Regions from separate parts of the Homo sapiens genome. Here region 1 is linked to region 2. Evidence: fine-mapped expression QTL. A gene starts in region 2. The other region holds a variant in brackets. All regions are shown on one strand. Distances are from middle to middle.

Region 1 (4,388 bases), 61 kb before region 2:
CTTTATTTCTCATAAAGGGTTGCAGTTTGCAAGGTAGCCGTTCTAACAGGCTGGGAAGTGTAGCTTCTGGTCAGAAGCCAGAAACAGCACTTCAAGGGAGGAGTAAAGGGAACAGGAATTTATGCTGAGCAGCGTGACCGAATATACATATTGAATAAACTTTAAGACGAGTCATGAATAGTTACAAAAGGAGAAACACAACCCTGTGTAATTGAACTTTATGCTCTTCATGGATCCAAGGATGGAGTTTTGGGCCTTCTAATGTCAAAAGGCGAAGCAGAGGACATGAAGGTATTCAGTGCACATCATCTGTAGACTGGCCAGGACCACTCCACAGGCAGTGGTCTCTTATCAGGAAGGCAGGCTTATCAGTGTGTCAAAACCACAAAAAGGGAGGGGCAGTGTCAGGGAGTTGTTTGATATCCACAGTGGAGTCTTTCAAAAGGGTTGGTTTCTGTTTAATCTTTAGGGAAGAAAGACTAATGGCAGTTATCAAGGGAGGGGGTATAATGAGGCATGTCTGACCTGTCAGACCTCCCATCCCATCATGGCCAGGAACTCAGGTTTCAAGGTTTCTTTGCAGTCCCCTTGGCCAAGATGGGATTCATTCAGTTACTTGGGGGGGGGTGGGGGTGGGGCTTAGGTTTTATTTTTCTCAGTATTGAGAATTTTACCCATAGGGCTTTCTGAGGCAAAGCTTCCCATTTTGGTTCCATTGTTAAATGAAAGGTAAGAGATAGGAATTTGTCAGCAAAGAAAGGAAATTTGATGTCTTTTAAAAACAAAACATGGCATGAAGAAAGAATAACAAAATCAGAATTCCTCTGGAAATTCACTCCCATTGGCATATATACTGTTTATTTAGGGTGTTGCACAACATAAAGAGGATTTAGCACCTGGCAGGAAAGACTGAGTGTTCCAAAGATGGAGTAAACATAAGATCCTATAAAGAATTGCTAGTGAAAGACTCCATCTGCTTTCTTTGGCTGGAGTGACTGGTCACAAGGCAATTTTGAAGATGATTTTGAGTAGAAGAAGCCATATCCATGCACTGTTTGGTTTGGGGAGGGAGACCCAGGCCAGGGAAGAGGGGTTCAGCAAGTTCCAGGAGGTGAGGGCAGAAGCCCAGGAACTACACCATTCCACCCATGGCTCTGAAAACTTGGTAGAAGAAGCCCTCCATACTAACATGCACGAAGGCCCCAGCTCGCCTGCCCCAGCAATGCCAGCATCACCCTCCCTGCCCACCCGCTCTCTCACCTCGGCACTCTTACCAGGTTCTAGCACTGCTGCCTTGATGACTGCAGAGCTTCCAGCGGCCATCACAACAAAACCACAATCATTTTGCACCTAAGATGTAGAGCCTTGACCTTGGGGAGTCACAGAGATTACATTAAGAGATACAGAATGCAAGGAAATGCCCACTGGGGTTTAATCCTCTTGGGCTGCTCAAGTCCTGAGGTCTTCATAAAAGCAAGTTACTATGAAGATGGGAGGCAGCCACTGTCTGGCCTTGATTGTCCTCATGGGCCTCTGGAGTGGAAGATGAACCTTTAAAGGGGCTAAGTGCACACCATGAGGAAGAGAGTTTTAAGTGTTATACTGTGGGAGGAAAAGGCTGAACAGAAATTCAAAAGGCTCGTCTAAGTGCCATATTGAAAGAAAGTGAGAAAGCATAAGTCAGGGACCAGGAACAAGTAAGGCCTTGGGAACTTTCTGGAATCTTTTTAATTTCCTCATGTTTGCTTCTTCTATTATCTTCCTAGTATACTTTCCAGTAACACAACCTTTTCAAAATGCCTAAAGCAAAAAGGATCTGTGTGTTTGCTTTGGGAACAACAGTTAATCATGGGCTGGGGCAGCCTGAAAGAAGAAGGAAAACCTGAGGAACAGGGTGAGTC[A/G]GGAAGCTTTGGACAGGACACATAGTTGTCATAGAAGGAAGGAGAAGCAGCTGGGCCTGTTAGGTGACCCAGAAACTTAGTAATAAGGGAGTGGTTTCTCTGAAGTTTTTATTTTTATGCCCTTCTACAGTTTTGTATATTTCTATATAACCTATTTTTTGTTTATAATCTACTTTATTCCATAAAATATTTAAGTAGTCTATAGGATATAAGAAATATATTCAATAAAATATAAAGTCAAAAAAATGCAAAATGTTTTAAAAGGTTATGACCAGGAGAAAATTAGAACACGTGTTTGCATAAGGCCGTACTCTGTCACTAAACAGAGGCTCAGATTTGTCTCTGAACTTCCAGGCGCCTGAGACAGAACAGAAATCAGATACGTTACCCGAATCTCATTGTTCACTAGAAGACAAACAAACAATTGCTGAGGTAAAGTAAAAGATACTTATAGGACCTCACAGAGTGGTTGAAAAAAAAAAGTGACACCTCCACATTATCATCAAGAGGAAAGTTCACAAAGTTGTCTCTTACATGCTAAGAGGATGACTCAAGATGTAACTCAGAGTTTCTGTGGGAACTCTCCCCTCCTCACCTAACTAGAAAGCGGCAGAGCCAGATTTGGAACACAGGTCCTGTGACCTCAGCTCCTGTTTGCTTTGTACCTCCTTTCACCTAGCTGTTTCCTACTTCTCTTGCAGTCTCAATTTAAACTTCACTTCCTGAAAAAGACCTCTCTGGCCCTGGGCTGGACTAGGCCCCTGTTAGGTTCTCAGCACCCTGGGCCTTCTCTATCTTTCACACATCACATTCTTTGTTCTCATTTGTTTGATGTCTGTCTTTACCAACAGAATGAAAGCTCATGACAGGAGGGACCATCTGGTCATCTTTTTTTTTTTTTTGAGTCTCGCCCTGTCACCAGGCTGGAGTGCAGTAGCACGATCTCAACTCACTGCAACCTCCACCTCCTGGGTTCAAGCGATTCTCCTGCCTCAGCCTCCTGAGTAGCTGGGACTACAGGCATGCGCCACCACACCCAGCTAATTTTTTGTATTTTTAGTAGAGATGGGGTTTCACCATGTTGGCCAGGATGGTCTCGATCTCCTGATCTTGTGATCCGTCCACCTCAGCCTCCCAAAGTGCTAGGATTACAGTCATGAGTCACAGCGCCCGGCCTTTTTTATTTTATTTTATTTTGTTGAGACGGAGCTTCACTCTTGTTGCCCAGGCTGGAATGCAATGGTGCGATCTTGGCTCACTGCAACCTCCACCTCCCGGACTCAAGCGATTCTCCTGCCTCAGCCTCCTGAGTAGCTGGGATTACAAGCACCTGCCACCACATCGGGCTAATTTTTTGTATTTTTAGTAGGGATGTGGTTTCACCACGTTGACCATGGCTGGTCTCAAACTCCTGACCTCAGGTAGTCTGACTGCCTCGGCCTCCCAAAGTGCTGGGATTACAGGTGTGAGCCACTGTGCTTGGCCCATCTGGTCATCTTAATAGATGCTGACGTCCAGGTGCGGTGGCTCACGCCTGTAATTCCAGCACTCTCAGAGGCCAAGGCAGGAGGATCGTTGAACCCAGGAGTCCAAGGCCACCCTGGCAACATAGAGAGACCCTGTCTCTTAAAATATATATGTATTTATGTATTTATATATATATATATATGTATTTATGTATTTATATATATATATATATATATAAAAAGAAAAAATAGATGCTGAAAAAGCATTTACAAAATTCAACACCCATTCATGATGAAATCTCTCAGCAAACTAGGACTAGAAATAAACTTCCTCAACTTGACAAAGAACATCTGAGAAAAACTTATCATTAATATTAATATCATAGTTAATGGTGAAAGACTAAATGTTTTCTCCTGAAGGTCAGCAAGAATGTCCGTTCTAACCACTTCTATTCAACATTGTACCAGAGTTCCTAGCCTGTGAAATAAGGCAAGAAAAAAGAAATAAAAGGCACCCAGATTGAAAAGAAAAAAAATAACACTGCCTTTATCACAGATAACATGATTATCAATGTAGAACGTCTTGAGATTGATTTTTTAAAATCTGTGCCTATTAGTAAATAAAACAAATATGAAAGACAAAAGGTTAATTCATAAAAATTAACTGTATTTCTATAGAACAGTAATGAACAATTTGAAAATGAGTTAAGAAACAATAGAGTAAAATAACCTCAAAAATGTGAAATACTTATGGATACATTTAACAAAATGTATATGCAAGACATATAAACTGAAAACTTCAAAACATTTCCTTGAGAAATTAAGAATGATCTAAACATATGGAGAGACATTCCTTGTTCATGGATTGGAAGACTCAATATTGTGAAGATATCAATTCCTCCCAAATGGATCTATAGATTCAAAATAATCCCAAATAAAATTCCAGAAAATTTTTTGTAGAACTTGACAAGCTAATTTTAAAACTTATATGGAAATACAAACGACATAGAATAGGCAAACA
Region 2 (4,388 bases):
ATGGCATTGCAATAAGGTCTATTTTCCCAGAAAGGGGGAGATTTTAAAGTTGCACAAAAAAATGGGGATTTTTAAATATTGTAACTGAGACTTATGGAACTAGAATTCATTGGGTCACTGTCTATCCTGGATTTGCTAGGTAACTTTCACATACTCAATTTAATACAGCCTTGGTAACTTAGCCTTTTCCTTAAGGGGGAAATGCAGTCTTATCTTCTCCCTTGAAATTTGAAATAGTAACTCTTCTAAAAAATGGCCACAATATTTGTGTTAAATTGAAAAAGAAAATGAGTTTTTCCTTTAAGGCAGAATGACTTCAAGAAAACACCATGAAGTCGGAACGATTTCACAAAAGACAACGAGAGGTTATGGTGTTAAGTTTCACCAGCAGCAGCCTCACTGGTCGCCAAGCTCATTGCTGTGGCCAAGAACCAAGGTTCTCCCAGTGTCCCAGCGTCTGAGTGGCATCATTCACCACTGATTTTTCAAGCCACGAAATGCACAGTCCAGTAGGGCACGTGATAATCTCTCCTTTGTCATGGAACAAAGGCAGATCGGAGTTTTCAGCCCTCACTGCAAGGGAGGGTTTACAAGAGCTTCTGATTACAGGCTGGAGGGAGGACGTGGCACCAGGCAAGAGTCTGGGCCCCGTGTACATTTGGCTGCCTATTAATCCAAAGATAAAGCCCTCCTACATCAGCACCAGCTCCTTTTGTTGTAAAATCCATAAGGTCATTAAACAAATATTGACTACAGAAATGTACAAATCCTATCCAAAATAGATTAGTGACAACAACAAAAAAATCTTGATCAAGTCAAATTTATTTATCGGGCACCTACTGTGTGCAAGATTTAGTGTGTCCCATCAGGAAACGGCACTCCCAATAAAGAAAAGCATTAATATGGTAATTTACTTAAAACAGGGTGCCTGTTTTGGACACCTTGTTTGGGATCCCGCAAAGTAACCTGTTCTTTATTCATGCAATGAGTTTTACTGCAGCAGGTGATGTTTTCTTTTTAAAACCTGGTGTATCAATCTGAGGATCTAAAGATCCTCTACACCAACAAAAAAATTATGTTTATTAAACTGACACTAAACAAAATTTTCTCTCCCAAGCTAGATTTATTCGCATTATTAAAACTTCTCACTTACAATGTTGGAGGAAAAAAATCTGGTCGGAGAGAAGATGGGGCGGGGAGTGGAGGGGGCCGGTTTCTCGCAGCCGCGCCCCTCCCCCATCAAAGAATTGAGGAAGGCTCGGGAGCGCAGCGGACTGGGAGGAAGACAATAGGGTACGGTTACCCCGCCAGCGGTGGGGAAGCGCGTTCCACACTCAGGCTGCACTCCCAGGTGAGCCCGGACTTTCGATGTCTGGGGACGGAGGACGCAGCGCGCCCAACTTTGGGGGAGAAGCCCCAGTGACAGTCCTCGATTAACCCCAATCGAAGGCGCTGGAGAGCCGTCACTCCCATCCTCCAAACCCGAACTGACCCAAACAAACGTACCTTCTTCGCCCCCGCCCCCGCTAGGGTCTCCCAGGCCCAGCCCCCGGTCTCTCTCGCCGGCGCGGTGCATCCATACACCCTCGAGGCAGCGCTGCGCGGCCCCGGGTACCCGCACCCGGGGCGAGGTTCCCCGGATGGAGGATCTAGGGAGACCGCGCTGGTAGCGGCGACCCGAACAAAGCCTGGCGGGGACTCGGGACAGAATCGTCCCACCATGCTGCCTCCCCAGAACTAGCCAATCTGGGCTAAAATAACATGGGGATCCTAAGATGACAAGCGATGGACGTGAAAGGTTGCCTCGCAGAGAGCGCAGCGTCAGGAGAGGGTCCCCGCCTCGGCTTCAGCCCGGAACCGGGGTTTGTTTAAAAAGGGCCAGATAGCCGTAGCTTCTCCGGGATACCCAATCCAACTCCGAGGGTGGAGGATGGGCGTGAGCCGCCCTCCCCGAAAGGGACCGTCGCCTCTCTTTGTGTAGAGCGCGGGGAGCGCGAAGACATTCCTAGGGGAAAGCGAGTCCTCAGGGACCCAGGGACAACGTCCCCAGGGAGCCCGAGCTCTCCAGGCGCTAATCCCTGCAGGCACCTCGGGCCTCTGGGTGAAAGTGGGAAGTAGTCACCTGGCTGCCTGGGAAGGGACAGCGTGGAACCTGGGGTGGGGCAGGGTCCTCTCAGCCCGCACGCGGAGCTGCATTGTTCCCAGGGCCGTGGGAGGAGGGGGGGCAGCACGCAAGGGAATGGAAAAATGGGGTCCACATGGCCCTCTCCCCTGGTCAGCTAAGCAAGATTCTCTCCCGGTCCCTGTCCGTGGCCCGAGGCAGGAGCGCAGGACGGTCCCCCGGGACCGGGTCCATCTCCCCTGCCCCCACCCCGGGAACGGCCCTCGAGCCCCGCCGGGCGCCAGGGCCTCACCTGCGTGGGTAGGAGCAGTGCCAGCAGCAGCAGCCCCAGCCCGAGCCTGGCCACCATTGCTCTGCCCATGTCCCCTCCGTCGGTGCGCGGCGCGTCTAGCAGGATGCTGGGTGCTTGGAGAACCGCTGGCTCCGGGCGGGCGCAGGCAAGGTGGGGAGCGCGGCGAGCCGGCGAGACCTTATATACCAGGAAAGCCACAATAGCCGTGACGTGGCGCCGCCCGCCCACCCCGGCTCCCCTCCGCCGCCGCCCGCCGCCTCCCCGCCTTCCCCGCCCCGCTCCGGGTTCCCCAGCGCCCCCGCCGCCGCCGCCACTGCCACCGCCGCTCCGGCCCTCGCGGGCCGGGAGCCCCCCGGGCGGGCGCCGCTGCAGGTGGGCGGGCGCCGCCGGCTGCTGGTACCCGGCTGGTATCCCCGCGCCGGCTGCGGGCTGCGGGCAGGCTGGCACAGGCGCCCAGCGCCTCCGGCACAGGACCCGGGGCACACACGCGAGCCACACACGCCGCGCTGGGGGCCGGGCCCAAGTTTCCTTTGTTTCCCGGGACCTGCCATCTTACCCCCCAAAAGAAAAGTCCGCGCCTCCGCTGCGGCGGGGTAGCCGCCTGTCCTGGAGCAAGTGCATTGCCACTCAGACTGCAAAATGCGCCCCGGGGACCCGAGAGGGGCTGCGAATTCCAGTGCGACCGCGTGGGGGGCGGGCGCCGGGACCCCTCGGGCAGGGTTATCTCTCGGCCCGCCGCAGAGGAAAGGGGAACGCGGCGGGCGTGGCGCGGACGCGGGCCGGACGCTCACCCTGGCCGACGGGACCCGGGCGCCGCCTAGCGCGAACCCTTCCCGGCTGGTCGGCGCTCCTCGCAGGCGGTGTCCGGGTCCGGAGCGATCTGCGCGCTCGGCCCCGCGGCCGCGCCCTCCCCGAAGCCCTTGCTTTGTTCTGTGAGCGCCTCGTGTCAGCCAGGCGCAGTGAGCTCACGGGGGCGTCCCGGGTCCGCATCTTCCCAGGAGCTGGGGAGCCGCTCGCTGGGCGCAGACCCGCTGCCTGACGCTGCAAACTACAGGGTTTCGGTCCCCCGCGCTCCTGCCTGCGGCGGGCGAGGAGGAGACGGCCCACCCTGAGGGGACCCCCTCCGCGGCCCTGAAGCCCCCACCGCCCTCCCCGAGCGGCTCTGCTCCCAGGTTCTACTCGGGGGCAGGAACCTCCCCTCCTGGCGGTCCCACTACAATTCACCGTCCCTCTCGAATTCCTGGGGATACACTTTTTCGGTCTCTGTTGCCCGTCATTCGTTTAAAGAGCAGAACCGTTCGAGATAAAGGCATTTACTTATCCGTAGTTGCCATTAGGCAATTTAATGAACCGGCACAAAGAGGAGATTCGTCATCACTCTTTAGATTTTGGTGGAATACTTTTTTCCTATCCATCTTATTGTGAAAACTTTCAAGCATACAACAAAAGTTGAAGTAATTTTACTGGTGGAGTATTTTGAGTTTAAATTTTAATTGCAAGACTTAATCTTTTTATTGAAGGTTTAGCCCAAGTGTTTTTCAGTCTTTAAAGCAAACAGCAGAGACCAAACCTAGTATGGTTGTAAATTTGTTTAAATTTCAGTTTTGCAGAACACTCTCGTTAGTATTTTTGGTTCAATTTTTAATTGCAAGACTTAATACTTTTATTTAAGGTTTAGCCCAAGCATTTTTCGGTCTTTAAAGTAAACCACAGAGTAGTAAGATTCTAAATTTGTCTAAATTTCACTTTTGCGTGGCAGTCTCATTAAAACAAAGTAAGTTTCAGGGAAGCAAAGTGACAATGAAATCTGCAGTAGGTTTGTTGACTGAATAGTGACTGAATTGGTTTGTGCCTTCAAGGTCAGTCACTTTAGCTCAGTAACTTTCCAAGCACGTTTAAGATGTGCTTGGGAACACAAGAATTTCTGTCGAGCACCAGTGGACTTTCCTGTTTAACAGTGTACCACATTATATA

Evidence for each region. PIP is the estimated chance that this variant, and not a neighbour inherited with it, causes the effect. A credible set is the group of variants that fine-mapping cannot tell apart.
Region 1: its variant is the best candidate, but not a certain one, in a credible set for the expression of CD24 in unexposed skin (GTEx, PIP 0.69).

Annotation. Positions count from the first base shown.
Region 1 is chr6:106,911,388-106,915,775 of GRCh38, forward strand. No RefSeq gene overlaps it. Among named protein-coding and RNA genes, the nearest start is that of CD24, 61 kb to the right of the region's middle. RefSeq lists an enhancer at 2,378-2,447. The variant A/G (reference allele first, on the strand shown) is at 1,902.
Region 2 is chr6:106,972,164-106,976,551 of GRCh38, forward strand. CD24 (CD24 molecule) reads right to left here and starts at 2,566. Exons shown (of 2, transcript NM_001359084.1): 1 at 2,415-2,566. The coding sequence starts at 2,483. RefSeq lists silencers at 2,918-3,067, 3,108-3,327.